Linked DNA regions of Homo sapiens: all the other regions are reported to be linked to region 3. The links are microRNA targets in miRTarBase. Many come from high-throughput screens and were not tested one by one. Region 3 holds a microRNA gene; each other region holds the end of a gene's coding sequence.
The links. The annotated mature microRNA hsa-miR-122-5p reads UGGAGUGUGACAAUGGUGUUUG and lies in region 3 at 2,876-2,897, shown strand. An mRNA with a match to its seed (bases 2 to 7 or 8) in the 3' UTR can be bound and repressed. Matches are read on the target gene's strand: a 7mer-m8 pairs with bases 2 to 8, a 7mer-A1 pairs with bases 2 to 7 and ends in A, and an 8mer does both.

Region 1 (5,512 bases), not on the chromosome of region 3:
ATCCCAGCTACTCAGGTGGCTTATGCACGAGAACCACTTGAACCAGGGGAGGCAGAGTATGCAGTGAGCTGAGATTGCACCACTGCACTCCAGCTTGGGTGACAGAGCGAGATCCTACCTCAAAGTAAAAAATAAAAGCATACATAATGTCAAAAAACAACCACACAAAGCTACCCCACCCACCTGTAATAAAACAGGTCACTTTATACCTGGCTCAGACCAGATTTTTGCTGGTGGCTAAAGAATGCTTTATGGATCAAAGGGCAGGTTGAGATTGCCTACTTACGTTCATTCCTTCCAAGCATCTTACCATAAACATCTGCCAAGGTTATGACGAGCATGTCACTAGGTTGCATTTTATTAGTTGCTGCCAACAGCTCTTACTTCTGATGGAAAAGAATTTAACAACAACAAAAAAACCCAGTATACTCCAACTTATGCTTTTTCTATGCTTTTATCACCAAATGATAGTACATCCATATATAACTCTAGATATTTGTTTTATAGTCCACACACTTGCTAGTTAAAATGTATTATCATAAGCCACAGTCTGTTCAGAATTACTTGGGTAAAATGCTATGTCACCTACAAACCCTCATCTGATTAATATGGAGGTTGTAATCACTGTCTCAATGGTTTCAGGCTCGTGAAACTTCTCATGCTATTTTCTTACGCCTGTGCTGGCTGGCTGACGGCCAAGTCCTCTGCCTCTGCCACTGCCTCAACCCATAAGCATGCTACAGTGCAGTCCAACCTTTTTTGGTCTTGCCGACCCAAGAGCAGTGTAAACCAGTTGAATCCAACTGCATCACAGTCACAGCAGGCAGGAAATTTCAAGGATCGTTAAGTTTAAGATTTGCCAACCTAAGATCAAGTTATAGGTTTTAAAGTGATTTCATTATCGCAAAAGGATAGCTTGGCTGCTGAGTGTGATTTTCCTATGTTCACATGTACTCCATGGGATTCTAAAACAGAAAATTAAATCTGAACATAAATGATCTGCCAGTTCTCCAAATGACAGGCTTGTGGCAAAATAGGAGAGGCAGTGTCATTTTCAAATCATGTAGCTAGAATCTGATCCAAGTCCATAATCAACGTCTTCCCTATTTTCCTTTGGTCCTTCAGTCTGTTATTACTGTTATTACCTTCTTCCCCACAGACAAATGGAAAATTCAAACATGTTTCTACTTGACATATACGCTGCAATCTTCCTTTCACACTGGCACTCACTATGGTTTTCACGAGAAGAGGTGGCAAACAGGTGAACATCTCACAGAATGTAGCTTCCAAAAATGCTGTTTTGGGCCAGGTTCGGTGGCTCACACCTATAATCCCAGCACTCTGGGAGGCCGAGGCGGGCGGATCACGAGGTCAGGAGTTTGAGACCAGTCTGGCCAACAGTGAAACGCCGTCTGTCCTAAAAATACAACAAAAATTAGCTGGGCGTGGTGGGGGAGCGCCTGTAATCCCAGCTGCTTGGGAGGCTGAGGCAGGAGAATTGCTTGAACCCAGGAGGTGGAGGCTGCAGTGAGCCAAGATCGCACCACTGCACTCCAGCCCAGGTGACAGTGTGAGACTCCGTCTCAAAAAAAATAAAAAATAAAAAATAAAAAAAGCTGTTTTTACTTGACTGGATATGTTGGTGTGGAAAGCAAAAATAATGCAATGATATGAAAAGTAATGGTATCTTATTTATTTAGAGTCTTACTCTGTCACCCAGGCTGGAGTGCAGTTGCGTGATCTCAGCTCACTGCAACCTCCATTTCTCCAGTTCAAGCAATTCTCTTGCCTCAGCCTCCTAAGTAGCTAGGAGTACAGGAACCCACCACCATGCCCAGCTAATTTTTGTAATTTTAGTAGAGACAGGGGTTTCACTATGTTGGTCAGGCTTGTCATGAACTCCCGGCCTTAAGTGACCCACCTGCCTTGGCCTCCCAAAGTGCTGGGATTATAGGTGTGGGCCACTGCGCCCGGCCAGTGTATTTTAAAATTATAAAGCCGATATATTACAAAGTAAAATGCAGGGGAAAAAAAGTCACAAGAAGTATAAAGATTAGATGCTTCTTGTGCTTCTTTTTGTAAAATACAGATGATCCTCAAGAAGTAACTTGAGCAGATTTTCTACTGGCTTTCAAATTGATAACCCTACACCCCCTATAAATTTTTACATTCCTTAACAGAGCTAACCATAGGAACTTCCAAATAATTTCTCAGTGGAAATGAGTCTTCAAAATCACACATGGCTCATAAGAGTTTTGCTTTTTTAATGCCTTCTCAAAGGACCCAGACTGCTAGATTTTCATAATAACTACTTTAACCAGATAGACTTACTATAGGCTGGTAGTTCCCCACTAAAAGATACTTTTCTCTTGCTTAGTAGTCACCTTCCTGTGTTCTAGAGCTTCCCTATGCTTTTAAAATATGCATTATTACAACAGTTCTCCTAAAAACAAAACCACCATAAGAGCTGCTGCACTCGGGGAGCCCTGAATGAATTCTAGAGCAGCGCCTGAGTCCTGCATTCTTTCTTCATTGTCCTTTTTGCTTAATTTGCCTGTGGTGTACCATCAACCTTACAATGGAGACAGAGAGAAAGTACTCCACCTAACCTATTTAAGAAACATTTGCAATATACTGTTTTTTTTTTTTACAAGTCTTTAATTAAAAAACTCAACAAAAATATATAATTGAGCATTTTACATAATGCATACATTCTTAATATCTGCAGGTAAGATAAACAACAGAAGGCAAAAGCAGATATGCTGTATTGCTTCTTTGGCAACTCACCAATATCATCCCCTGCAGAAACAGAGTTTTTTTTTTTTTTTTTAAATCCATGGTCTTAAAATAATTGTCCCTTAGTATAAACAAAATATTTAGCAATAATACAGTAGACGGATTCTTCAAATTCACAACAATTTATAATACTTTATACCACAAGGGTAAACTAGTAAGCTGCTTTCTAAAATTAAGGCAGCAGCAGTGTTTAGAGGGGGAGTAAAAAAAAAAAAAAAGACATCCTTTTTCTAGTTATATCCTGGCTCTGCCTTCTTTGTTGTTGTTTTTAAATAACGTCACATTCAAGCTCTACGTCTTGGATGACATTCCTAAGGATAATAAAATCCTTTTCCCTGTACATAAACTGTGTTTCACTTCCAGATCAGTCTGACACTCTCCAACAAAACCAAATACATTTCGTATGAGGCAACACAATTTTTTTTTTTTTTTGAGATGGAGTCTCGCTCTGTTGTCCAGGTTGGAGTGCAGTGGTGTGATCTTGGCTTACTGCAACCTCCACCTCCTGGGTTCAAGCAATTCTCCTGCCTCAGCCTCCCAAGTAGCTAGGACTACAGGTGTGCACCACCACGCCTGGCTAATTTTTTTTTTTTTTGTATTTTTAGTAGAGACAGGGTTTCATCATGTTTGCCAGGCTAGTCTCAAACTGCTGACCTCAGGTGATTTGCCCGCCTCACCCAATTCAACTTTCGTAAGTCAGTATTTACCATCTAACTCAGTGTCCCAGAATTTAAAATTTCCTTGCACTTTACAGCAAAGATACATATTGTGGCTCTACTGAAGCAATATATACATGTCAGAACTAAAAATCAGAAAAGCAAAAGGGTCCATTCAACATATAGCAGCTTATATCTAAATATGTACAGGTATGTATGTTTTCACAGTTAGATCTTTAAAAAAATTTATATTTGATATGTTCAGAAATACTTCTATTGTCTATAAATAATATTTTAAAAGCTCAACTGATCAAAATGCAGTACAAGAACATATCAAATTAAATAAATCTTCTACGTCTTTAAAAACAGATAATTGAAGTCAGTAAAGCTTGAGGTTTGTGTTAAGTGTATTCTGTCAGTCCCTACTACTAGGGAAGGCAGAATCTTCTAAATACGATACGAGAGAAACTCCAAAAGCTTGGAAGGAATCGGCAGCTCCTGAACTTCTTGGGTGGGCATCACTCTTCGGATTGACATGCGACATAAATGTTGCAGGCTAGGGACCTGCCGTGGAGTGGCCCAAAAATACACACTTCCGTCATGTGTCCTAAACAGAAACAAAGCACATGCTTAGTCACCCAAGTATATGTATTTCAGTGTTGCTACAGCTCAAACAACTATCACCCAATACATGTGAGTAGTGGAGTCACAAACTTCACATTAAAACCCAACCAGGAAGAACTAACCAATGATGTATTCCATGACAAGGTAACACTACTATGAAGAACACTTATTAGAGTTTTACTGACAATAAATTACTAGCTGCTAAAAGCCCCCTTAAATTGGCCCTTAAAGAAAAGAGAAAAATGGGCCAGGTGTGGTGGCTCACGCCTGTAATCCCAGCACTTTGGGAAGTTGAGGCGGGAAGATCACTTGAGGTCAGGGTCAGGAGTTTGAGACCAGCCAGGCGAACATGGTGAAATCCCGACCCTACTGGAAAAACGAACAAACAAATAAATTAGCCAGGACTGGTGGTGTGCACCTGTAGTCCCAGCTACTCGGGAGGCTGAGGCAGGAGAATCTCCTTGAACTGGAAGACGGAGGCTACAGTGAGCAGAGATTGCACCACTGTACTCCAGCCTGGGAGACTACATCTCAAAAAAAAAAAAAAAAAAAAAAAAAAGAGAAAAATATATTTACCCAGCAGCTAAAACACTGCCATCAGTAGAGAAGGCACAGCAAAGACCATTGCTCAAAGGTGCAACTTGCACTGGATAATCCTCATCAATTCTCCAGAACCTCACCATTCTGAAAATGAAATAAATTATTTAGTATCTTGTAGAAAATGTAAGGTAAAAGCAACTTTTTTAAAATTTAGAAAGAAATGCCATTGAGTTATGAGTCACAAAATACACACATCACACCAACAGGCAATTATAATAACTTGCTTTATACAATTACAAAATATTTTAAGGTCTATAATATCAGTTGGTAAATTGGATAAACTTTCACTTAAGAGACTACAATGCATGGCTGCCTTCCCTCCTTCCCAGTGTTCAAACCTAGAATGTTCACACCCGGAAACTTTCTCCTTACTTTCCTACACTTACAATACAATCAACTTCTAGTCTGTTTCACCCTTTTCCCAAGACATTTTTAAAAGCTAGGTGGGCCTGGTAGCTCACAACCATAATCCCACCACTTTGGGAGGCCGAGGTGGGTGGACTGCTTGAGCCCAGGACTTTTAAGACCAGCCTGGGCAACATAGGGAGACCCTGTCTCTACAAAAAATTTTTTAAAAAAACTAGCCAGGTGTGGTGGTATACCCCTGTGGTGTGAGATACTCGGAAGGCTGAGGTGGGAGGATCACCTGAGCCCAGAAAATCAAGGCTGTGGTGAGATGTGATTGCACCACTGCACTATAGCCTGGGCAACAAAGCAAGACCCTGTCTCCAATAAACAAACAAAAAAAACCAGGAAAGGAAAAAAAGCTTTTCACCCAGGCTGAGTGTGTCTACAAATACAGCAGAGAACTAACATGCAGAATCTATCTGAGCAAA
Region 2 (5,512 bases), not on the chromosome of region 3:
CACAACCTCACTTCCTATTTTGGTTCCTACAGTGTAAATAAGTGTCCTTTTCACAGTCTATTTAGTGGCACATTTTTTTTTTTGCTTTTTATTGATAACTTTGTTGTTTAAAGTGACACTGAAGTAAAATGCTGAAACACTGTCTAGTCTTCCTAAGTGCAGGAAAGTTGCTATGTATTATGGAGATAATACATGTGTTGGATCCTCTGAGTTCAGGATTAATCAATAATATATATTAAATGGGGTGTCTTTGAACATATACACACATAAAACAAACTCATGTATTGATCAGTTGACAAAAATAATGTAGCCAGAAGCTCACAGGAAACTAACCCTGAATTTTTCCTAGGGGAAATGATTCAGTACTTGTAAATTCAATGTCCATGTGACTTTATTAAACATAAGAGCTTGTAGTAACAAGAATAACACCATCAGAGATGGTGGACAAAATATGTGATAGCCAATACTTGAGGGAGCTTGTGAGAGCCTGTTAAGGACCACTTTTCCAAAAAGTCTTCTGTTACACAACAGATTCAGATACAACAGTGATCTGGCTTTCTTTACAGGTCCACGTCCACATGCAGGGACAGGAAGCTCTCTTTTCTGAGGATATGCCCTTAAGAGATGTCATTGTTCATCTCACAAAACAAGTGAATGCCCAAACCACAAGAGAAGCAAACATGGGGACACCCTCCCAGACTTCCCAAGATACTTCCTTAGAAACAGGACAAGGTAAGTCAGGTGAATCTGCACAACTGAGGAGTGTTCTATGTGGACCCCTTCTTAAGTACAACTTCATTGAGTGTCTATTTTCACAGGATATGAAGATGAACAAGATGGCTGGAACAGTTCTTCGAAAACTACTCGAGTAAATGAAAATATTACTAATCAAGGCAATCAAATAGTTTCCCTAATCATCATCCAGGAAGAGAACGGTCCTAGGCCTGAAGAGGGAGGTGTTTCTTCTGACAACCCATACAACTCAAAAAGAGCAGAGCTAGTCACTGCTAGATCTCAGGAAGGGTCCATAAATGGAATCACTTTCCAAGGTGTCCCTATGGTGATGGGAGCAGGGTGTATCTCTCAACCAGAGCAGTCCTCCCCTGAGTCTGCCCTTACCCACCAGAGCAATGAGGGAAATTCCACATGTGAGGTACATCAGAAAGGATCCCATGGAGTCCAAAAATCATACAAATGTGAAGAATGCCCCAAGGTCTTTAAGTATCTCTGTCACTTATTAGCTCACCAGAGAAGACACAGGAATGAGAGGCCATTTGTTTGTCCCGAGTGTCAAAAAGGCTTCTTCCAGATATCAGACCTACGGGTGCATCAGATAATTCACACAGGAAAGAAGCCTTTCACATGCAGCATGTGTAAAAAGTCCTTCAGCCACAAAACCAACCTGCGGTCTCATGAGAGAATCCACACAGGAGAAAAGCCTTATACATGTCCCTTTTGTAAGACAAGCTACCGCCAGTCATCCACATACCACCGCCATATGAGGACTCATGAGAAAATTACCCTGCCAAGTGTTCCCTCCACACCAGAAGCTTCCTAAGCTGCTGGTCTGATAATGTGTATAAATATGTATGCAAGTATGTATATTCCTATAGTATTTATCTACTTAGGATATAAGATATAATCTCCTGATTATGCTTTCAATTTATTGTCTTGCTTCATTAAAATGTAAGGCTAAGGAGAGCATGGAATTTGTCAGTTTTGTTCACTAAAGTATTCCAAGTGGTTGGGAAAGTGGAACATTTCCAAGAACCAATAAATTTCTGTTGAATAAATGAATGAATCCATAATGTTGATATCCTTTTTTAAAAAAAGAGATGGGGCCGGCCGCAGTGGTTCGGCCTCCCAAAGTGCTGGGATTACAAGCGTGAGTGACCGTGCCCGGCTTTTTTTTTTTTTTCTGAGTCAGAGTCTTGATCTGTCGCTCAGACTGGAGTGCCGTGGTGTGATCTTGGCTCACTGCAACCTCCACTTGGAGGTCCAAAATTAATCATAGACACCAAACCACAGATCCAGAAATCTCAGAGAAGAGGAAGCAGTGTAAATACCAAAAACCTACAACTAGGTACATCATATTCAAACTACAGAAGGCCAAAGATAGAGAAATTCTTGAAAGAAGATGGAGGTGGGAGAGGGCACTTTACCTGCTGAGGAACAAGGATGAGATTTAGAGTAGAATTCTTGTCAGAAACCAGATAATCAAGAAGGGAATGGAGTGAAAGTTCAAAATTTAGTACAAAAAATAAAACCCCACCCTAACATCTATATCCAGCAATGTTATCTTTCAAAGGTGGAGGAGAATAAAGCTTTTCTCACACAAATACTAAAGAATTCATCCCCAAAGGTCCTGTTACAGGGTCCCTGCATTACATGTGAAGCAATCCAGTAGTTATTTGAAGGTCGAATTAGATTAAAGATGTTTAGGCTGGGCACAGTGTCTCATGCCTGTAATCCCAGCACTTTGTCAGGCTGAGGCGGGCAGATCACTTGAGTCCAGGAGTTTGAGACCAGCCTGAGCACCAAGGCAAAACCTCATCTGTACAAAAAATACAAAAAAACAATTAGCTAGGTTTGGCGACATGCGCCTGTAATCCCAGCTATTTGGGAGGCTGAGATGAGAGGATCACTTGAACCTGGGAGGCAGAGGTTGCAGTGAGCTGAGAACAGACCACCGCACTCCAGCCTGGGTGACAGGCTCAAAAAAATTTTAAAAAGATGTTTATTGTAACTTCTAAGGGAGGAATTAATATTTTTTTTTTTTTTTGCTGGCAACTTTGATTAATTTAAACATACAAAAATTAGCTGGGCATGGTGGTGTATGCTTGTAACCCCAGCTACTCAGGAGGCTGAGGCAGGAGAATCGCTTGAACCCGGGAGGCAGAGGTTGCAGTGAGCTGAGATCGCGCCACTGCACTCCACCCTGGGAGACAGAGCAAGACACTGTCTCAAGAACAAAAACAAAAAAGCCCAGGCGCAGTGGCTCACCTGAGGTCAGGAGTTCAAGACCAGCCTGGCCAACATGGTAAAACCCTCGCTCTACTGAAAATACAGAAATTAGCCGGGCATGGTGCTGGCGCCTGTAGTGCCAGCCACTTGGGAGGCTGAGGCAGAAGAATTGCTTGAACCTGGGAGGTGGAACTTGTGGTGAGCCAAGATCAAGCCATTGCACTCTAGCCTGGGCAACAGAGTGAGACTCCGTCTGGGAAAAAAAAAAAAAAAAAGAACTGATAAACAAATTCACCTGTGTAGCTGAATTCAAAGTCAACATGCAAAAGTCAACATGTAAAACTCATATGCCCTTCCATACACTAACAATGAAAAATCTGAAAAGGAAATTAAGAAAACAATATCATTTGCAATAGTAATGTATATGGTCAAATGATCTCAACAAGGCTACCAAGACCACTCAATGGGGAAACGATGATCTTTTCAGCAAATGATGCTGGGAAAATGAAATATTCACATGCTAAGGAATGAAGGTGAACCCTTACCTAACACCAAAAACACAAATGAACTCAAAATGGACTAAAAACCTAAACATAAGACCCAAAACTATAAAACACTTAAAAGAAAATATAGGGTGAAAGTTTTATGACATTGAATTTGGCCATAATTTCTTGGATTTGACACCAAATACACATGTGACAAAAGAAAAATAGACCAATTAGACTTCATGAAAATTAAAACTTTAGTATATCAAACAATAACAAAGTGAAAGAGGAACCTATTTAATGAGAACAAAATACAGGTTGAATATCCCTGAGCCAAAAATCTAAAATCCAAAATGCTCCAAAATCCAAATTTTTTTTTTCTTTTTTTTTTTTTGGAGACGGAGTCTCCCCCTGTCGCCCAGGCTGGAGTGCAATGGCGTGATCTCGACTCACTGCAACCTCTGCCTCCCAGGTTCAAACGATTCTCCTGCCTCAGCCTCCCAAGTACTGGGATTACAGGCGCTCGCCACCATGCCCGGCTAATTTTTGTATTTTTAGTAGAGACAGGGTTTCACCATGTTGGCCAGGCTGGTCTCGAACTCCTGATCGCGTGATCCACCCACCTTGGCCTCCCAAAGTGCTGGGATTACAGGCGTGAACCACTGCGCCCGGCCCGCCCGACTAATTTTTGTATTTTTAGTAGAGATGGGGTTCCGCCATGTTGGCCAGCCTGGTCTCGAACTTCTGACCTCAGGTGATCCGCCCGCCTCGGCCTTCTAAAGTGCTGGGATTACAGGCGTGAGCCACCGCGCCCAACCCCCTGAAATAATATTTGTTTGCCTCTAGGGGCACCCTGAGCTTCGTGGAGTCTGAAATAATGTCTCTAAACACTTAAGTGATCAGTTACGGAAAACACTTCCCAGAAATCTGGGAAAAGCCCCTTTAAGAAGGAGTAAATACCTCCTTCTCCCCTAGAGGCCGAAGTCGCCATTTCCCTGCACGGGGCACAGCACCTCAGAATACAAGTTCGCAGAGGTCAAAGCAGTGGACACACTCCGAAGAGCTCCGTGGAGTTTTGGAAACTACATTATCCAGAGTGCAGAGCGCAAAACGGCGGCGGAGTTGAGCCAATGACAGCCCAGGATAGCAACACTTCCGCGCACGCGCAGCGCGACGGGCCGGAACTTCCGGCGTCCTCCTCGTGGCGGTCATTTTGGCCTCTGTCCTGTTTGTCCAGCCCGCCAGTTTCTGCAGTGGAGGTCGCGACTGAGGGACGGGACAGAGAAGTCGCGAAAGTGGGCCAGAGGTTCTGCGACACCACCTCGGGTGAGCTGCGCCAGGCCCGGGATAGGGACTGTTGTGTTCGAATGCCCGCCCCGGTCGGCCGCCGCTCCCCGCCTAGTCCACGGAGCTCAATGGCGGCAGTCGCGCTGAGGGACTCGGCTCAGGTGAGTTGTGCGTCCTCCGGGTCTCGCCTACCTCCCCCAGCAGAAGCCTTAAGGCCCAGTGAGGGATGCCTGCTCACAGCCCTGCAGCCCAGGCCCCAGTACCCTGGACAAGAAGGCGCTTGTGGATTGGACCCGTTTGTGACGCCCAGTGTGTACGGAAATGTGACGGGCAGTTGACTGGCGCGTGCAGAACTTGGAGCTGCGACTAAGCTGGGGGGGATTCAGGAGCCTGGGGTCCGTCTCGGGTCTGCAGGAACATAGAGTGAGGCAGAGTTGCACCTGACGAATTTGACGATTCTGAGGACACTGGCAGCCTTCGAGATTTGTGAACAGATAGGGACACTGGGCTAGGATTTCCTAAAGCTATCCAAAAGTTGCTCAGGGGAAGAACAGGCTGAAGAGAGGTAATAGTAGTTAGGCATAGGAAGACTGAGTTCTTGTCCAAGCTCACGCAGCTGGTAAAGTCAGCACTGAGAACTGAGGTGCGGAGATAGTGCAGCCAGCCCAGGCCACCTGGCTCCAAAACTGGACCAGGGTCATTGGGCGACCTGAGCCTCGCCACTCGTCTAGCCTTGGGCCCTGAGACTTTGAGCAAATACAAAGCCCAGAGTCTTA
Region 3 (5,512 bases):
TAAAAATCTGCAGAATGAGAAATTATTTTGTGAATGTTTAAAATATTCAAAAGTGGATCCTGACACTAACCACTTTTAATTTATTTTACTAGCGATATATTATTGGATGACTTTTTTTTTTTAAAAAAAGAAAACCTTCTGCTTGTTTGTTTAAACTGCTTTGTAAATTGACAGTTTAACCACCTCTGCAGAAACAAAGTAGTAATAAAAGATGTTGGCCATTTTAGCAATGTTTAAAAATTGCTCACAAGACAGAAAATGATTGGCACTCAATATGTGTTTAGTGATTGATGCAATAATACCATAAAATTATTGTACTGCATAATAAAGTATTTCACTAATAATTTGCTAAAAAATTAGCCTGAGGCCTGCCACTCAGCACAGCACTAACTTTTCATGCTTGTGACAAGTTGTATATGAGCAGGATGGGTTCCAACCTTCCCAATTTCAGAAGAGTATTTTGCAAGAAGGAATTTGTATTGAGAGTCCAGAAAGAAAATTGCCTAAAAGTTTTTAAATCCTCATTTTTCTCAATAAAAAAGTGCCATATGAATCATAAATTAACAAATGCACACAAAAGGAGAAAATGAAAACAAACCATAATTTCTCTACTGAAAGATAACCATGGTTAACATTTGATGTTTTGGCCTCAGGCATGTATGCATTTTTTCACAGAAAGGGACTCATACTGTGTATATTGTTTTATAAACTGTTTTTTAATTCAATAACATATCTTGAATTTCCAAGTCTACCAGACTTTTCTACAGAATCAATTTAAATAATTATGGTCTATCATAAATATATTACTCTTCTCCTATAGCTGGACATTTAGGTTGTTTCCAATGTTTACCCTTATAAACAATGCCACTATGAGCAACCTTATAGGTAAATCTTTCTACAAATTTTTGACATTTTCCTGGAGATAGATTTCTGGGCCATAGAAATTGAGGTTGATTTGGGGTGGGGGGAGTTGGTAAGATTTACCTGTAAAGGTTGATTTGGGGGGTGGGGAGTTGGTAAGATTTACCTGTAATGCATTAACTTCCTCATCTCTTTTCATCTTCCATCTGTTCCTTCCCTTTTCTGTATTTTGCAGATTATTCAAAGCCAAAAGCCAACAGAGCCCCCATGGAGAAGTGGAGGATGCTCAGATACTGCTATGGAGCCCTGAGAAGTGAAATGGGTCCAAGCCCTTGCCCAGGATAGAGCGCTCCAAGCGCATCCTCCGGGGACCCTTTTAATCAGTGAATTGTTCACCTCTCACTGTTTCTTCCCAGCAGAGCTAAGAGACTTCTAGAGCCTCTTGTGGATGGTCAGCGATAGCCCTGGTATGACCAGGAGGTGGCGATTTCTGTTCTAGGTCCCTCAGCAAAGACTAAGCAGGACAAGCCTGGCTACTGTGTTAGGAGGAGCTGTAGGGAAAGGGAAGGACAAGATGGGCCACCACATGCCTGTGTCCACTGCTGGCCACACCCAGAGTGCTAGGGGTTTGTGGCAGTGACTGGGGCCACCTAGAGCAGTTCTAGGGTTCGTAGTCATTCTCTCTGAGTCATGGAAAACTGCCCAGGAGGCGAGTCCCACCTAAGAGAGTATGTGTAGCACTGGCACGGCCTGCTGCCTTGCAAATGACCACATTTCATGAAAGAAAGCCAGGGCCACAGACAGGAACCAAAGGAAATCAGTCACTTAGGGGAAGATAACGAATCCACAAAGTGAAAAAGGGAAAGAAAAAAAGAGGCAACTTCAACACTCCAACCCATGGGAGCAGAACGACTTTCAGCTTTCGCAGGGGGATAATCACTGCAAGTCCAGCTTGAAGAGGGTGATTTCAGGATCTACATGAGAATAAGGCGCAATTTTTTTTTTTTTTTTCTGAAAAATACGGAAGGGTTCATTTACAGCTGTTAAAGATGGGCCGGTTTTAGGGCTAAAGCAAGACTCTGGTCAGATGTTAACAACTCAGTTATCCTGGGGAAAAAATAACTGGCTCCCAACCCTTTCCCTTTTCAGCATTTGCAGGAAAAGAAGGAGTAGGTAAAATGCTTTATTTCCTCTCATTCTCCATGGTGGGCAGGAGTTCACATAACAATTATAAACCATCTTTAACAGGAAAGCCAAGTAAATCCTGTAGGGATTTATTTGGAGCTCCCTTTTTGCTAGAAAATGAGTATCATGAACTAAAAATGGACTCGTTTCCTCTCTCTCCATCTTCCTCTCTTTCTTCTCTCCCCTCATCTCCCACCCACCGCCATGGTGGAAAATGACTGTGGTCAAGAAGATTGAACATTTGAGCAAGACCAGATGCCTTTATATCCAATAGATGCCACGGAGAGTAGATCACAACACATCTAACTGCTGTATCCCCATATAAAATAATTTTAATTTTCCTAGACTGCAGAATTGATCACATTTACTGATGATGGATTGGGAAGTAGGTGAAGAGGTGAGAGTTGGAGAGTATCCATTCATTCGGCCAGATTATTCTCATTTATAATGTAGTCTTCCAATAAGTATTTATTTCCAGAAATCTATTCCCTCTAGAGATTCTTTCTCTCTCAGCCATTTTAGAAAATTGTTGCAAACAGAGTTCCTGTCCATTTTCACAGGAAGTTTTTGCAGAAGGGGTTTGCTGGGTGGCAGTGGAACACAGGCAGTGGACCCCTCTACTACTCTACTGTTCCAGAACACAGAAGCCTTTCATTGAGAGTGTTCAGCTCTTCCCATTGCTCAAGATGCTTGTACCCGTGATGCTTCTTTTCTCTGCTTAGGTCACAATATGTGGAGCTGACAAGGTTCCCCTATTATCAGTGACAATGGTGGAATGTGGAGGTGAAGTTAACACCTTCGTGGCTACAGAGTTTCCTTAGCAGAGCTGTGGAGTGTGACAATGGTGTTTGTGTCTAAACTATCAAACGCCATTATCACACTAAATAGCTACTGCTAGGCAATCCTTCCCTCGATAAATGTCTTGGCATCGTTTGCTTTGAGCAAGAAGGTTCATCTGATATCAGTCTTCTCAATCTTGTGTACTTACTGAATAAAGTCTGGCTCTTTTGCACTCATAACCAATATGGTTAGCTGAACCCTGCCTCTCACATGCTGTTGTTACATACCTTAGCTGGTGATTAATTTTCTTGTTTTCCCAAGTCAATAAAAAGATTGCAGACCAGGCACGGTGGCTCACGCCTGAAATCCCAGCACTTTGGGAGGCCAAGGCAGGCGGATCACTTGAGCTCAGGAGTTCAAGTCCAGCCTGGGCAGCATGGTGAAACCGTGTCTCTACAAAAACTACAAAAATTAGCCAGGCATGGTGGCATGTGCCTGTAATCTCAGCTACTTGAGAGGCTGAGGTGGGAGGATCAATTGAGCCCACGAGGTTGAGGCTGTAGTGAGCTGTGATGGTACCACTGCACTCCAGCCTGTGTGACAGAGCAAGATCCTGTCTCAAAAAATGAAAATAAAAAGATTGCAGAGTTCCTCAGAGCCCCCAACACAAGGCCAGGCACGAGGTAATCATTTAACCCATGCTTATAGACTTAAAATGAATAGTTAGGAAAGTGTTAGACGCAGAAGGCTAAGACTGGGCTAAATCTATGTTATGCAGACAGACCGCAAGCTTATAGGTACAAAATTAAGGTGTGTGGGTCCTTCTCTTTTCGTCGTTAAAAAATCCAACTTTCTAATAAACTTACACATGGTTTCACTGACGTTTCAGAAATTCTAGAATATGTTTGATTTCTACTGATTTCAATCAATTACTAGGCTGATTACTGAATTCGTACACTAGGCCTTTCTTCCTCTTGCATCAGTGAATTACCATCAGAAAATTGTTTATGAAGCATGTGTGAGCTGCCATAGCAAATCTGGGACCCATGCAGTTTCTAGGACAGTTGGCCCAGCCAGGTGCTCTGGTTTGGAACCCATTCTGTCTCTGAGAGGTGTCTAAAGTCAGGAGTAGGTTTCGTTTGTGCCAGACTAAAGCTTCCCTCCCCAGGCTTGGTTAAATGAAGTAGGACATGTTTAATCAAATAGACAGGGTTAGATCAACCATCAGAAACAAATTCAACCATTCAACCATTCACTTATGAAATAAATATGTGTAGAGACTACCGTGTGCCTGACACTGTCCTAGGCATTGAAGACACTTTTAAATTAAATGTGTCTGATGTTATTTCCAGAGATGGGCATTCACTGGCTCGCATTATATTTTGGGACCATTGTAATTGTTCCAAACGGGAGCCAAATGAGCAAAACTTTGCGAAATAATTCTGAGTCCCTTGCTGGAAAGCCTCACCTGAATGCAGCCCACACATTTATGATACACTACAAAGGCTTCAAGGTCATGAGATGCCTCTGTCCAAAGAAGAAGAAGAGCACCCCTGCCTGCCCTGCATCTCTTACCACCTCTCATTTCTTCCCTCCTGGCACCATCTACTGTCAAGAAGAGAATCAGACTCCCTGAAATAATTGAGACACTGACATTCCTTTTTGTGTGTATTTTTTTGGCAAAGGCTCTAATTGAACAGGCATTAATAGAGGGCTCTACTGTTATACAGATCACGCTCATGCACACTGTATTAGTCTGTGTTTTCATGCTGCTGACAAAGACATACCCGAGACTGGGAAGAAAAAGAGGTTTAATTGGACTTACAGTTCCACATGGCTAGGGAGACCTCAGAATCATGGCGGGAGATGAAAGGCACTTCTTACGTGGCATCAGCAATAGAAAATGAGGAAAAAGCCAAAGTGGAAACCCCTGATAAACCCATCAGATCTCGTGAGACTTATTCACTATCATGAGAATAGCAGGGGAAAGACTGACCCCCATGATTCAATTACCTTTCCCTGGGTCCCTCCCACAGCACGTGGGAATTCTGTGCGATACAATTGAAGCCGAGATCTGGATGGGGACTCAGCCAAACCATATCACATGCCATTTCATTTGATCCATACAACATGGGGCAAAGATGATCGGTTTGACAAACAGAGTCTAAAGGGTTCTGGAATCGTCTGGTCCTCCAGCCACAACTCAACATGGATCTCTTAAGTCTAAAGTTCTGTCCTGTACCTGCAGCCTCCTTTGGCCTAGTTATTTTGTGAAATCTCATGCTTCACAGTCGAATCTGTGTAGAACCTGGGTTAATCACGCCAGTATGCGATCAATATCCTCATCTCCCCATCTGCTTTGTCAGTGGATTCTGAGGGAAAACCTGTAAATTAGAGAGGGATGAGCCATATAAGAATGTCTCCTTGTGAGTGTTCATTGTGCAGAGAAAGCTGAAAATTGCAAAACCCTGTAATCATGAAATGAAAGAGAAGGAACATCTAAGTGGTAGCTTTGGGGTCAGGAAGAGGGTAGACAAACTGTCCCAACACCAAGCAGCCATCTACATGACCCAGCCACCTGATGTGGCACCAAATGACCCAGAGTCTTGAGGTTCTGAACTGTTCCCAGACTCGGGGACAATGTGAGGACTGGGTCTTCCATGCTCCTTTTCACTCCCACTCACCC
Region 4 (5,049 bases), not on the chromosome of region 3:
TCTAAGAAGTAAGTTCTTAACATTGATAATAGTTTTTTAAAGCATCACTTAGGAGCTGCTACTCCAGAAAATCCAGAAATAGAGCTGCTTCGCCTAGAACTGGCCGAAATGAAAGAGAAGTATGAAGCTATTGTAGAAGAAAATAAAAAACTGAAAGCAAAGGTAAATTTTTAAAAAGAATTCATATTCAAATAATTTTACCTGTAATAATTGTATGATGAAAACCTCACTGAAATGGACAGGAGGGGAGGGAGGTGGGTGAATATCAATTTGAATTAATTACAATGTAAGGCCAAAGTTATGCCCTGTCAAGAAAACCACAAGACGGGCCTGGCACGGTGGCTTACGCCTGTAATCCCAGCACTTTGGGAGGCCGAGGTGGGTAGATCACGAGGTCAAGAGTTCGAGACCAGCCTGGTCAACATGGTGAAACCCTGTCTCTACTAAGAATACAAAAATTAGCCGGGCATGGTGGCATGTGCCCATAATCCCAGCTACTCGGGAGGCTGAGGCAGGAGAATCGCTTGAACCCGGCAGATGGAAGTTCCAGTGAGCCAAGATCGTGCCACTGTGCTCCAGCCTGGGTGACAGAACAAGACTTCATCTAGGGGGGTTAAAAAAAAAAAAAGAAAACCGCAAGACATACTGGAAATAGGACAAGCAAAGAAGCAAAGTGTGGTCAAGAAGAGGTTCTGGCTGGGTGCGGTGGCTCACGCCTATAATCCCAGCACTTTGGGAGGCTGAGGTGGGCAGATCACCTGCGGTCAGGTGTTCCAGATCAGCCTGGCCAGCATGGAGAAACCCCGTCTCTACTGAAAATACAAAATTAGCCGGGCTTGGTGGTGCATGCCTGTAATCTCAGCTACTTGGGAGGCTGAGGCAGGAGAATTGCTTGAACCCGGGAGGTGGAAGTTGCAGTGAGCCGAGACTGTGCCACTGCACTCCAGCCTGGGCAACAAGAATGAAACTCTGTCTCAAAAAAAAAAAAAAAAAAAAAGAGGTTCTTAGGAACCTGTATTACTAAAAGGATGAGAATATTGGTTAATGTTCTTTATAAGTAAATGGTCAGTTCTGAGGTTCTTAAGCAGTTGATTTTAAGTAGGCCAATATGGGGCGACTGCTTTGTAAATGGCACTTCTTAGAATTTGTATGGTTCATAGTTTGCAAGGCCATATGTAGCGGCCCTCTGTAAATTTGTTAGGACTTAATTTTATCTAGTGCTAAAGTTTTTTCTTTCTTTTTTTGAGACAGGTTCTCTGTTACCCAGGCTTGTGTGCAGTGGTGCAGTCATGTCTCACTGCAGCCTTGACTTCCCAGGCTCAAGTAATCCCCCCACCTCTGCCTCCTGAGTAGCTGGGACTGCAGGCATTTGCCACCATGCTCGGCTAATTTTTAAACTTTTTGTAGAAATGGGGTCCCATTATGTTGCCCTGGCTGGTCTCAAACTCATGACTCAAACGTTCCTCCTGGCCTGGCCTCCCGAAGTGTTGGGATTATAGGCATGAGCCACCTCACCCAGCCAGTTTTTTCTTTTTTCAAAGTCCTGTGAGAATTTTCATGAACTTCAAATTAGTCAACTCTTAAGTCTTTCAGGTCTTACCACATTCTTAATCACATAATGTATTTTACATTACTCTAAGTATTTCTCATAATATATTTTATCTTCTCAACAACTTTGTGAGATAAGTGAAACAAGTACACAAGCCACTTTATAGGTGAGGAAACGAAAGCACAGTGAAGTCTAATAAGCTTCTCAACTCCAACAGGTAGTTGGCAGAACCCTAATGTTAGCCTAGTGTTCTTGCAAGGAACCACACTTAGCATAAAAGAAAATGCAGTTATTTTAAATTATCCAAGATTCCACAATGTGTAGTGCTAGTTAACTCTTTGGAACCTTTTAACTCAAAGACATTAGTAGTTGTTTATTGGCTGGTTAAGTTAAGACATGTCACTTAACTCTTTATCTACTTTTCAGTGGGTATTTTCAGTAAACTTTTGCTGGAGAGGAAGAAAGTTCCTTATAAGCAAATGAATCTTTGGGAAGATATAGTTTATTGCATATCAAGTATTTGAACAGTGCAGTCATGAACTGGAATGAAATTTTAGTTTCAAAGCAATTTTAAAGGTTTATATAAAAAGGGCTTTCATTAGATTTGATTGTATTAAATCTTAAATCACTGAATGATTTAAAATGGATAGTTATAGAAACTGATATTAATACAATTTACTGACAGTAACTAAGTTGAATATAACAGTTACCTTGTTTTACTATTTTTTACTCAATTTAGAATAAAATTCACCTAAATTCCTCTGTCTTTGCCCCATAGCTTGCTCAGTATGAACCACCTCAGGAGGAGAAGCGTGCTGAATAGGATTCTTCTCAGTTTGAAAGACAATGAAAAATGGTTTTGTATGACTTGAATAGTTTGTATAGTATATAATCTTTTCTGAACAGATGCTATAGAACTCTTTTAATATGTTTAATTCACCTATCACACTCTGTTAAAAACACATAGAATCATCAATAAAAACTCAATATAACTTTCTTTGGGTCTTAAAGCAGGAGAATCCAAAGTAAATCCTGAACAAAACCTAAACACAGCCATCTAACTCATTACCTTAAAAGACATTCTGTTTATTAGTCTGATTAGGAATGATGGCACTGGTTGTATTTTAGCCAAGACAGTTTAGCATGGAGCTATTCCTTGGTGCAGTTCAGGATATGAACACAGGTACAGTCATTCTTTGAAGGTGACACTGTTCTGTATATTCCCTATAGGCAGCTGGAGAGATCTGTGTGACACAAGATGCTTTTGTACGGGTTCCCATGAATCTTCTGCTCTTGTTTGTGTGACATGGAACAAATAACTTCTTTGCCACCACTTTGCCTTAGATAACTGTGTGTGTGTGTGCCAGTTTGAACTCTGACACCACATTTTCCTTCTATGCAATCATGCCTGTCTGATAATCTTGCATTGCTTTCCTCTGAGCTTTAGTGGGTCCTAGTTGCACACTGGCCTTTCTGTGCTGTTTTTCAATTTGCCTAATAATAGCAGTTACCCTGATTGTAATTTATGTAACTTTAAACAGGATCACACTGTACCCCCTGCCTGCCTTATTTGCTTACTGAGCACAGGACAGAGGCAATATACAACTCTGGGTTCACACACAAGCTGAGATGAGAAGAGGAATGAGCCATATATTGGGGAAAATCATAGTTTGTAGGTATAATTATATAGTGCTTTTCTCCCTCAAAGTATTTTTCTAGCCTTGAATTCATTTTATCTTCATTATCCCTGTGAAGTAGGTGGGACAAGTATAAGGGGAAGAGGGGTGCTGAATTTTTAGGCCAAAGACTGATATTAATACAAATCACTCACTAACTGTAGAGCCTTGGGCATTATCAGTGAACTACTCTGAGATTTACTGTCTTCATCTGTTTAATGAGTAGAATGTCCGTGATGCCTACCTCACAGGGTTGTTGTGAGGGTCAAATGAGAATGTATGTGAAAGATTTGTAAATGGTAAAGCACTATATTCTTGTTTGTTAGTCCTTTTTCCTTTCTTTGGGTAGACCTACAGTCAGATGTTTTGTTTTATGGATCACTTATTTTCCTTACTGGTAGACTGTCGTTTTATAGACATATTCCTATTTCATATATTCTCTCCCTGTTGTTAGAGAACCTATCTTTGTTTTTGGTCAAAACACACATAGAAAACAAAATGATCCAATGAAAACTGGTTTAACTAGCAAAAGCCTTGGCACCTGTTGGAGACTATGACCAAGCCAATAAAAAGGGCATTTAAATCAGCCCTGTTAGTAGGAATGTGGCTATGGCTGGTGCCTCTTCTAGTCACAAGTTTGTTTTTGGAGGGGGTCCAGAAGATCATTCCCTTGCATAGATTTCTCTTTTACCAATTTGAGTGCCTCCTACATGGGCAGCAGTGGACTAAGTGCTGGGTGTGATAAAGAGGAATGACTTAATTATGAGACTGTATATAATCAAATACAGTGTGGGTTAGGACCTGTGGCAGACCATTATAATAAAGCATGGCCCCGTGAGGGTTTTGAAAGAGAGAGAGACTTGGCTTCCTTAGTTGGTATGATAGTTTCTTGGTAGATACAGGTTGAAAATTTTTTGTGGCAGCCAATCCTCATGGGCTTTTTACTCATTTGATTAGTATTAATATTTATGTCAGTAAGCCAGGTGACTGTGACTGTCTTTGGTACCATCCTTTTTGAACAGAAAGGCAACATGTGGGTTGGATAATCACACTTTTAGGTGAAACTGACTTGCTTAAACTGTAACAGTCAGTGCTATTTAAGAATTCAGGATAAGCTTAGCCTCTAGAGGTCCTCTTCAACATTTCTGTCAAGGATTTGGATGAATACAACAAGATGCTCCATGGAAGAGAAAATGGATAAATGGATCCCACCAGTTAAGCTCCTATTATGCTTCAGCTGCTTTGTCTATAAAATATCGACTTCACATCTTGCCTATCTCACAAGTTGGTTGTAAGAATCAAATTAAATATAATGGATGTAAAAGTGCCTTGCAAACTGTAAAGGATTACATACAGACCAGATGGTGGTAGTGCCAAATCTGTAAGTGACACAAATTGGAAAGTCTGGTTGGAAGACTATATTGAAACAAGCTTTAAAATGATTAACCACGTGGAATACCCAAACTGCTGGGCCTAAACCAAAAAGTTGAAGTATCAAGTCTTACATTTAGGTTAAAAAATGCAGTTATACACATTTAGGCACTAGGATTGCTGACAAAGTATTAGTTACAGTGATTATCAATGTGACCCACCCTATGGATGCTTAAAAAAAATTACATTCTGGAAAGCAGGAATAGAAATACTGTCTAGGTGTTAAATGGTCATTCTGAAAGTTGTACTGTTTAGTATTGCTTTGTAGGAGTCAGATGTTTGATGGATATTGACAAGCTGGAATGCATATAAAGAGTGACCAATAGAGGATTTGAATATATAAGGCTGGGCTCTCCGATTTGGTACACACTAGCTGCAAGTGGCAGTTAAAAA
Region 5 (5,512 bases), not on the chromosome of region 3:
AAGTTGGTGTGAAGTGAGGATATGACATAAGTAGGCTGTTTAATCTGTGCTACGGAGCAATGAGAACCTGATCTTTGGAAGTTGCAGCTGAAATGTGAAAAATATGTACTGTAAAAATGCACTTATTCCTGAATAAGTAAATTGTTCTCTCTTAATCTGATTCTTCAGAATAGTTACTGACTGTATCAACCATCAGATGCTACTAGTGAGGAAAAAAAATATAGTAGGTAAGTAGGTTCAGTAAGACAGTTACAAATTATGTTGGCCAAAGAAGCATGTATGTTTTTACCAATGATGCTTATTTGTACATCTGATACTCTTCATAATAACATTATGTTGGGGAAAAATATGATATTAAAAATAACAATGAAAAGTAGGATTGATCTCTTGCCCATTGAAGCAAATTTAGCAAATTGTTAATATTTTTAAAATCATAGTTTATGTCTATAATTTTGTTTTCTACATGTTTAAATAGTCCACATTTAAAATAATGGATTTAGTTTCCAACAATGCTTGTTTGAAACAGTGTATATTTTGTAAGTTTCAGATAATGTATACATTTAAAAACCCATTTCACTGCTTAAAAACAAAAATTAAACATCTGAATTTTATGATTTTTTAGGACTTTTAACCTTATATAAATGCAACATTTATGTTGGAGAACGAGGGAAGAAAGTTTATTAAACATATTATTGATGTTATGAACTTAAAACTGCATGATAATTCTTCTTAGCATGTTTTACTGCACAAAGCAGGTGATGAAATTCTAAGTATCAAAAGATTAAAAGTATTATAATCAAACCTAAATTAGTTTCAAGGCTTACAGACCCCTTGATGTCAAGGACACTGTGCCTCTCCATCTGCACTAGCTGCAACATTATAGCAGGACTTGCCTGGACTGGAGTGCATCTAATACTTCTTGCATGCAGGGATGAAATACAAGTTTTTGAAATGACTTTTCTCAAGACTTCTGGGAAATGTCAATAAAAAGTATTGTTAATCCACCCAACAAGTAAATATCCTATCACTGAAAGAATGAATTTAACTTGAAAACCTCTAAGACATCAGATAATTTCCAGAACCATTCTATTGCTTACATAAGTAGCTTTATACTTTCAGATCTAAATATGGGTTGAAAATTTGAAATAAATTCATTAATACATTTGTAAGCACGATTTAGTTTATTAACTTGAACAAATCATTTAACAATTATTAGGTACTTATAGAGCAGGCCTATTTGAATTTTAGTGATTATGGCTTTTCCAGAACTTCTATACTTGAATTCTGAGGCCCCCTTTTCTGTGCTATCTCCAAACCATATTATTTTGAAATTGAGTAACTTATACTTTCCTTTTTTATTGGGCAGTTATTCAGGTTATTTATTGAATAGAACAGTTTGTTGTTGACAATCTCAGCAAAGAGTTCTCTGACAACAGAGGGGAGGAAAATAGAATGTCAATCTGAGATAGCTATGTATTTGTGAAAGTCTAACTGCAAGAAGAAGTTGATCTTGGACAAAAATGCAAATAATGCCATTATTATTAATGAGTATATACAGTGTCAAAAATCCAAGTTCTTCCATGTGTTTGGTTTATGCATTATTTCTATGAGGAGAGAGGAATGAGGGGGTTGAAATCAGAGATGGGGAGGGGAGTTACTTTGGTGTAATAACAGCCATTGAGCTTTAGCTCTTAGGAGTGTGTGCTGGTGACCCTGCAGGTCAAACTAAGTTTAGAGCAAGTGAGTCAGTTAACTTCCCAAGATGATACTGGGTTCATTCTCTCTATATGCAACAAAATACTAGGTTTTCTGAAATTCTCACAGCATTGAAAACACCATTGCAATTATTTCAGAGCTCATCATCCATTCTGGTAGGAATTATTATTAAGGGAAACAGGAAGACTTTGAGCTGCATGGACTGAGTCTCTAACTGCATCATGCCTGATGGAGAGAGAAGAGGTTACTAATGGCCCACCTACCCATGGGGGCTAGGGCCATTTATTAGCAAAACGACAACTTTAAATAACTGTGTCTCAAACAATCCATCCTTGAATAAAGGAGGGATGGCCAATGTCTACCAGTCTTTAATACAAAGGTTAAATTTTGGAAAGCTGATTACACCTGAGAACAATTAGCTAATAATTCCCCTGAGTATTTTCATGAAATCTATGTACTGGTAGTTCCTTTGGCTCAAGGTGTTCTTTATGAACAAGACAAAAATTAAATGACTATATGTAGTGTTTTGATGACTCAGTCAGTGGCATCTTTATACTTACTAAGGTTCACAATAGTTTAATTTTTCAATTATGATAGATGTATCCATTTTTCTTGAATGTTATTCAGTCTTTAATGATTGAATTATTTTTTATATAATGATTTTTTCATGTTCTCCATCTTCTCATTAGGAAGGCTTTCTAATCTCCATTTGCTGGTCTCTAGTTTGGCTCCTAATACAATACATTATGATTTCATATACTTCTTATGCCAGAGACCGAAAGTCCAAGAAGGCAAGAAATCAAGCCTTATTCCCTTGTTGTCAATGCTTTGTACTTAATAGGTTCTTAATGCAAAATTTCAGAATAAACAAAAATATGAAAAATACCTTTAGAGGCTTCAAATAATGATTATATATATTTTAATCCTTTAAAGACATTAATAGTGATTATAGTTTTGCTTTTTTTATCCTACACCTATTAAGACTCCAATTACCTCTTTCATCAACACACCGCATGCTGATATGATTGATAAAGGTAGAACTATTTTCTATTATGCATTAATTAGATTAGCAGGACTTTGCAGTGGCTTTTTATGTTCTCTGTTCAAATGAAGAGAAAAGAAGTTGGTTTGGAATTATAACTATAGGAAAGTTGTGGAGTGCACTTGGTCTTCAGCTTTGTTTTAACAAAATAACTGCTTCCTCACTCTGCTTGTGAAGGGTGGCTAATTCAAGGTTATCAGTCAAGATTTTACTGTGTAGTTTATGGAGGATAGATGACTCAAGTCTGATGACAAATATGATTCCACTGAACTGACAGCTGAGTTATCTGTAGCACATTTAGATTTCAGGTATATAAACTTGTTTAGGAGTTTGATTTTCCTTAACTATCCTAGGAGAATCGAAGGACTCCTCCCCTATTTTGTTGTCTGCTTCAGCTTGATGGAACAGTAATGCAAATTTTCCAGCCTACTTTATTCCTCAGTTTAGGGAATGAATTAAAGTTATCCTTAGAAGAGAAAATAATGTAAATAAGAATGAAATATATGTATGTGCTTACCTATGGTGTACAATACAGGAGCTTAGGGGAAAGAACTGAGAAAGTGTGAGTTAGTGATCTTTACACCTGCATTTCACAAGTGACTGAGAATGAAGCAGATAAAAGCCATATATTATTATAAAAAGGAAATATATTTATGTGAAGTAGACATCAACATTAGAGATATGTCTGTAATTAAATAGAATTTAAACAGGGTTTCAGTGGAAATTGGTCCTAATATCTTATGATCCATTCATGCGTGACTCTGCCCTGTGAAAATGTGCAGGGGGAACATTCCTGGGTGATGGAATCAGAACTGAAAAAGATATGCAGGTACACGGTGAGGACGGTTGACAACACAGCATTTTTAATCTGCATCTATAGAAAACACTTATATAAGCTCTCTAATGGAGGGATTATAGAAATACATTTGATATATAATAGTGTACTTTTGTGTACTTACTGTGAAAATAGCACATTTATTTAGAGAAGGATTTTATGCCCAAAGTTCTTGTTGATGTTTTGAAATATATCCATTTCCTTCTGTTGTAGTAACTGTTATCAAGAAAAGGAAAAGTACCAACAATTTTCCATTATTCCTCATCAAAAGTCTTCTTTGACTGATAGTTCCCAGAGTCATCTAGAATGTTCACATCAGTAAAATGTTCTAGAAAAAGTCAGAGTTTGTGTTCTGGGAAGCGTCTACATTTGCCTGCATTCATGTCTCGTGCACATGGCCTGCCGCTCGATTCTCCATGTGCCTTCCTCATAAGTACAGTGGCATATGGTGCACTCGTCAGTCTTCACTTCTCTGCCAGCAGGGATCACCGCGGTTTCTGCAAAGCAGTTTGGACCTGAAATGCAGAAAAATGTTTTATACTATATGTGTGCATAAATATATAATATATATAATTAGGTATTAAGCATTACAGTATATATATGTGTGTGTGTGTGTGTGTGTGTGCGTGTATTTGTTTGTTTGTTTGTTTTTGAGACAGAGTCTTGCTCTATCACCCAGGCTGGAGTGCAGTGGCACGATCTCGGCTCACTGCAACTTCTGCCTCCCGGATTCAGGCAATTCTCCTGCCTCAGCCTTTCAAGTAGCTAGGATTACAGGGGCATGCCACTATACCCAGCTAGTTTTTGTAATTTTTGTAGAAATGGGGTTTAACAATGTTGGCCAGGCTGGTCTTGAACTCCTGACTTCAAGTGATCCACCCACCTTGGCTTCCCAAAGTGCTCAGATTACAGGCATGAGCCACTGCACCCGGCCAATGGTACATATTTTATTCAGTTTCTTTTATGAAGGACAGTGGCAAAGTTATAATTTCAGTAATAATGAAATACTCTACTTTTGTTCTGAAATGAAACCAATGCCATTTAATTTTTTTTTTTTTTTTTTTTTTTGAGACAGAGTCTTGCTCTGTCACCAGGCTGGAGTGCAGTGGCACGATCTCGGCTCACTGCAACCTCTGCCTCCGGGGTTCAAGCGATTCTCCTGCCGCAGCCTCCAGAGTAGCTGGGACTATAGGGGCGTGCCACCACACCCAGCTAATTTTTGTATTTTTAGTAGAGATTGGGTTTCACCATGTTGGCCAGGATGGTCTCGATCTCTTGACCTCGTGATCTGCCCGCCTTGGCCTCCCAAAGTGCTGGGATTACAGGTGTAAGCCACCGCTCCCAGCCCATTTAAAATTTTTATAAGAGACAACACTGTGACTTTCATTAACTTTTCCATTTTGGGGCTAAAATCTGCAGCCATTTCGTTTAATTAATTCTAAATACTCACAGAAAAAGCATAACTAAGACCTTCAAAGAACCAGTCCTCTTCAGGACACTTTCAGCAGAGATATCTTAAAACAAGCAAACTGCTTGAAGTGACATAAATTCAGTATACCTTCCAGGCCTCCGAGGGCAGCTTTTCAAACTTTCCCATACATTACAATGGCCTGGAGGGCTGTTGAAAACACTGTTTGCAGAGTTTGTGATTCACTAGGTTTGGGTTGGGGCCTGAGAATTTGCTTTGATAAGTTCTCAGGTGATGTGGATGCTGCTTGTTTGGGGATACACTTTGAGAAGCACCATCTTAGTGTGTTGCAGGAGTCTATCTTTCACAGTTTTCCATGAGAATTGAGGATCTCTGTAATTCTCAATCAATTCTATATCAGCTATAATATATCAGCCAACAAATGTGTCACATCTGCACTTTATGTTAAGATCAAGGACATGGAGAGATGAGTATCAGAAAGAGTTCCAAC
Region 6 (3,000 bases), not on the chromosome of region 3:
CTAAGTTTCTTTGGGGGTTACTTCTTTATTTTTTCATCTAAAGAAAATCAGGCATAGATGTTTGTGTTAAATGAGAAACAGATACTCTTGTCAGTAAGCCTAATGTTCACTTAGCCAATGAGCACTTCTGTGGTCAAAGAACATATCCAATGTGTCAAATGTGGGGAAGGGACCTCTGATATGACATTTAAAGATCAGTTTGGAGTCATAAGACTTACTGGAAACATTTATTTGCATAAGTAAAAATAAGATGTTTCATTTTTTCATAATAGAGATGTACATCTCAGATGTGCACCTCAACAATTAGATATTGCTATAAAAGAACACATTTTCAAAATATGAAACAATGCCTCTTGAGTGAGTTTTATAGCAAGAAAATTGGAAAATGAATGATGATATATATATATTTACATATGTATTTTGTATATATGTATATACACATATATATTTTGTGTATCTATGTACATACACATATGTATGTGTGTGTGTATGTGTGCATATGTATATTTGAGTCAGAGTTTTGCTCTGTCATCCAAGTTGGAGTGCAGTGGTGTGATCTTGGCTCGCTGCAGCCTCGACCTCCTGGGCTCAAGCAATCCTTTTGCTTCAACTTCCCAAGTAGCTGGGACCACAGGTATGTGCCATCACAGCTGGCTAATTTTTTATTTTTATTTTTTTGTAGAGATAAGGTCTCACTTTATCACCCAGACTTGTCTTGAACTCCTGGGCTCAAGTGATCCTCCCACCTTGGCCTCCCAAAATGTTGGGATTACAGGTATGAGCCACCGTGCCTGGCCTCTGTCAAGAATATTGTTATGTGATAGCACAACTTGTAACTTGGGTACAAAGCCCTTTTACTGATAGATGAGAAATGAAAAGGGAAGAATCACAGCACTTGCCACTCAAACTTTCTCATAAATAAGGTAAAATTTTAGTTTTTTAACTTTAATGTAGATATTTGTCTTCACATATTTATTTTCACAATTCATATGCAGTGAAAGAAGTAAATGCCCTCAGATGCCATTCAAAAACTATTTAATTAGGATGAGATCTTGTTAGGATTTTTTATTTTTAGCCACTCAGGCTAATTTTTTTTCTGATTGAGAAAAAATATTAAGCTGCATAATAATTCAAATAGTGTGTTCAACTTTTGTGTCTTTATAAACTGAATAATGGATGGACATGGGATAATATTCTGCAATTGGGATTATCTCTTTTATCTCCTCCATCTAAAGGCTCAATGGAATTAGAGGTATTTATATGAATTTTAGGGTTAGAATATATTTCAGTCCTTTCTCATTTGAGTAAGTAAGTGTGAATGAGTATATAATTCCAATATGGCATGTATAATGAAACAAATTTACATTCCCACGTTCTGAAGCTAGTTTGGAATGCTAAATATTTAGACATAGATACCATATTTTTAATCAGACAATATAATCTCATAGCCACATTTTTCTCTTTTAGTTTCTTGACTCTGTCACCTTCCCCTTCTCCCCTTGTAAAGCAATTTTGTTAGTTTACATTTGCTTTTCCTGGACAATTTTGCATGGGAAACTTTTATCTACCTCATGACTATCAGAACACACCATCATCTTGTAGCTTTGATGCCATCCTTTCTTTTATGTGTCCCTAAAGGATTCATGAGGCATGTCCCAGATTGTTTATTGACTTGACTTCTCAGGACCTTTCCCAGTCGTTGAAAACTGTCTGGGGTGTTCTGAGAAGTAAGTTTACTGGAAGTCAAGGAACTCTCTACTTGTCCCTCAAATTATAGTCAGTCCTGTGGTGGGCATCTGTGTCTGGATTCTGGGAATGTAGACACTGCCACTGTTGCCACTTGATCACACATTGAGGTATTGGTGTTGGGGAGAAGCTATCCAATAATACTATCTTAAATAATAGGAGTATAAATGGTACAAATGCAGCAAGTTACCCTGATTGCCTTTGGTCAACATGACTTTCCGTCCTCAACTTACAGTATGTTTCCAGGTTTCCTTTCTATCCATTAGGAGGGCAGGGGTCACAGCTGACCAGACTGTCTTGTCTGTGTCTGTACCGGCAAACAGATGTTTTAGCAGGTGGTTTCTTCTGATTATGGCAGGTTAAATTAAACTATTTTGAATTTAATGTACATTATGCTGATGAGAACTGGATCGGTTATTTAAAGGACTGAGATTCATCTCTATATGAACCACTTTATTTCCTGCTAGGACATCCTTTTGCTTTTTTGAAGATATAAACAATGTCTACTTCTATCAGAAAAAGATAGACAAATTATGTTTTTGAAAATTGAAGATATTATTTCTTATTAACAGACTGAATGAATGGCATTAATATTGATTATTAATGCTATAGAGAAATACAGAGAATATAGTTTATCATAAAAAGATGAATTTTAAAGCATTAAGTGCATTTTATTTTATTGTATTAGCACATAAATTGATGAAGCCACATGGTGAAAATCTGTGAGAAACTGAAGGTTTTCATTTGTTTTCTGTGCCCCACTGTATATCACCTTTCAAAATAATGCTTTCTGCTGGGTCCAAACTTCACTTGGAGCAAAGAAAGGTAGTTAAAAGGTTTCACTTAAAGCTACTTCGTTATGGTGCTACTGAAAGTAAGTAAAAGCAAACAGCAGTAACATGGGACTTAAATGAGCAAGAGAAGGATTCAGGTGAAATAGAAGCTGCATTTGGGGATAACTGAAGATTGACTTTCTGATGAAAGGCACAAAAAAGGATTAATTGGCTTATTCCAAACAGAGGGCAGTTCTTTAGGAAGTATGCTTGAGGATATACTTGGCAATAAATTTGACAGCTAGCATGGTCTCTCTGCACGTTGGCTTTATCCGGGATTCTGGAAGGAGAAAACCAAATTTGCCTTTATCTCGGAGCTCAAAGGCAAATGTGTGTTTGATGCCCAGGTCATAAGCCCAGTCTAAAGAAGAACCTGATATCGGGTCTGTAAAACACAAGCAGTAAATATTTAATTAGAGAC

Region 1: the mRNA of WSB1 is a reported target of hsa-miR-122-5p. Seed matches in the 3' UTR shown: 7mer-A1 at 3,258-3,264 and 7mer-A1 at 1,723-1,729.
Region 2: the mRNA of ZSCAN4 is a reported target of hsa-miR-122-5p. The part of its 3' UTR that is shown has no 7-base or 8-base seed match.
Region 4: miRTarBase lists MYCBP as a target of hsa-miR-122-5p. The part of its 3' UTR that is shown has no 7-base or 8-base seed match.
Region 5: the mRNA of VWC2 is a reported target of hsa-miR-122-5p. Seed matches in the 3' UTR shown: 7mer-A1 at 2,871-2,877, 7mer-m8 at 1,695-1,701 and 7mer-A1 at 900-906.
Region 6: miRTarBase lists CPA3 as a target of hsa-miR-122-5p. The part of its 3' UTR that is shown has no 7-base or 8-base seed match.

Annotation. Positions count from the first base shown.
Region 1 is chr17:27,310,757-27,316,268 of GRCh38, reverse strand. It overlaps WSB1 (WD repeat and SOCS box containing 1), which reads right to left. Exons shown (of 9, transcript NM_015626.10): 8 at 4,653-4,760; 9 at 343-4,059. The coding sequence ends at 3,900. Among named protein-coding and RNA genes, the nearest start is that of LINC03146, 19 kb to the left of the region's middle.
Region 2 is chr19:57,677,348-57,682,859 of GRCh38, forward strand. ZSCAN4 (zinc finger and SCAN domain containing 4) reads left to right here. Exons shown (of 5, transcript NM_152677.4): 4 at 567-732; 5 at 819-1,805. The coding sequence ends at 1,558. ZNF551 (zinc finger protein 551) reads left to right here and starts at 4,630. Exons shown (of 3, transcript NM_138347.5): 1 at 4,630-4,897. The coding sequence starts at 4,817. RefSeq lists an enhancer at 4,322-4,945 and a silencer at 5,001-5,070.
Region 3 is chr18:58,448,213-58,453,724 of GRCh38, forward strand. MIR122 (microRNA 122) reads left to right here and starts at 2,862; the gene lies at 2,862-2,946. MIR122HG (MIR122 host gene) reads left to right here. Exons shown (of 3, transcript NR_170245.1): 2 at 1,097-1,328; 3 at 2,607-3,069. It overlaps MIR3591 (microRNA 3591), which reads right to left and starts at 2,940; the gene lies at 2,868-2,940.
Region 4 is chr1:38,861,993-38,867,041 of GRCh38, reverse strand. MYCBP (MYC binding protein) reads left to right here. Exons shown (of 5, transcript NM_012333.5): 4 at 33-162; 5 at 2,328-4,549. The coding sequence ends at 2,372. All of the region lies in intron 1 of RRAGC-DT (RRAGC divergent transcript), which reads right to left. GJA9-MYCBP (GJA9-MYCBP readthrough) reads left to right here. Exons shown (of 3, transcript NR_037637.1): 2 at 43-162; 3 at 2,328-4,552. Among named protein-coding and RNA genes, the nearest start is that of RRAGC-DT, 4.6 kb to the right of the region's middle.
Region 5 is chr7:49,910,630-49,916,141 of GRCh38, reverse strand. VWC2 (von Willebrand factor C domain containing 2) reads right to left here. Exons shown (of 4, transcript NM_198570.5): 4 at 1-4,108. The coding sequence ends at 3,957. It also overlaps a transcript of ZPBP not described here. Among named protein-coding and RNA genes, the nearest start is that of VWC2, 140 kb to the right of the region's middle.
Region 6 is chr3:148,896,484-148,899,483 of GRCh38, reverse strand. It overlaps CPA3 (carboxypeptidase A3), which reads right to left. Exons shown (of 11, transcript NM_001870.4): 11 at 2,281-2,964. The coding sequence ends at 2,777. Among named protein-coding and RNA genes, the nearest start is that of CPA3, 33 kb to the right of the region's middle.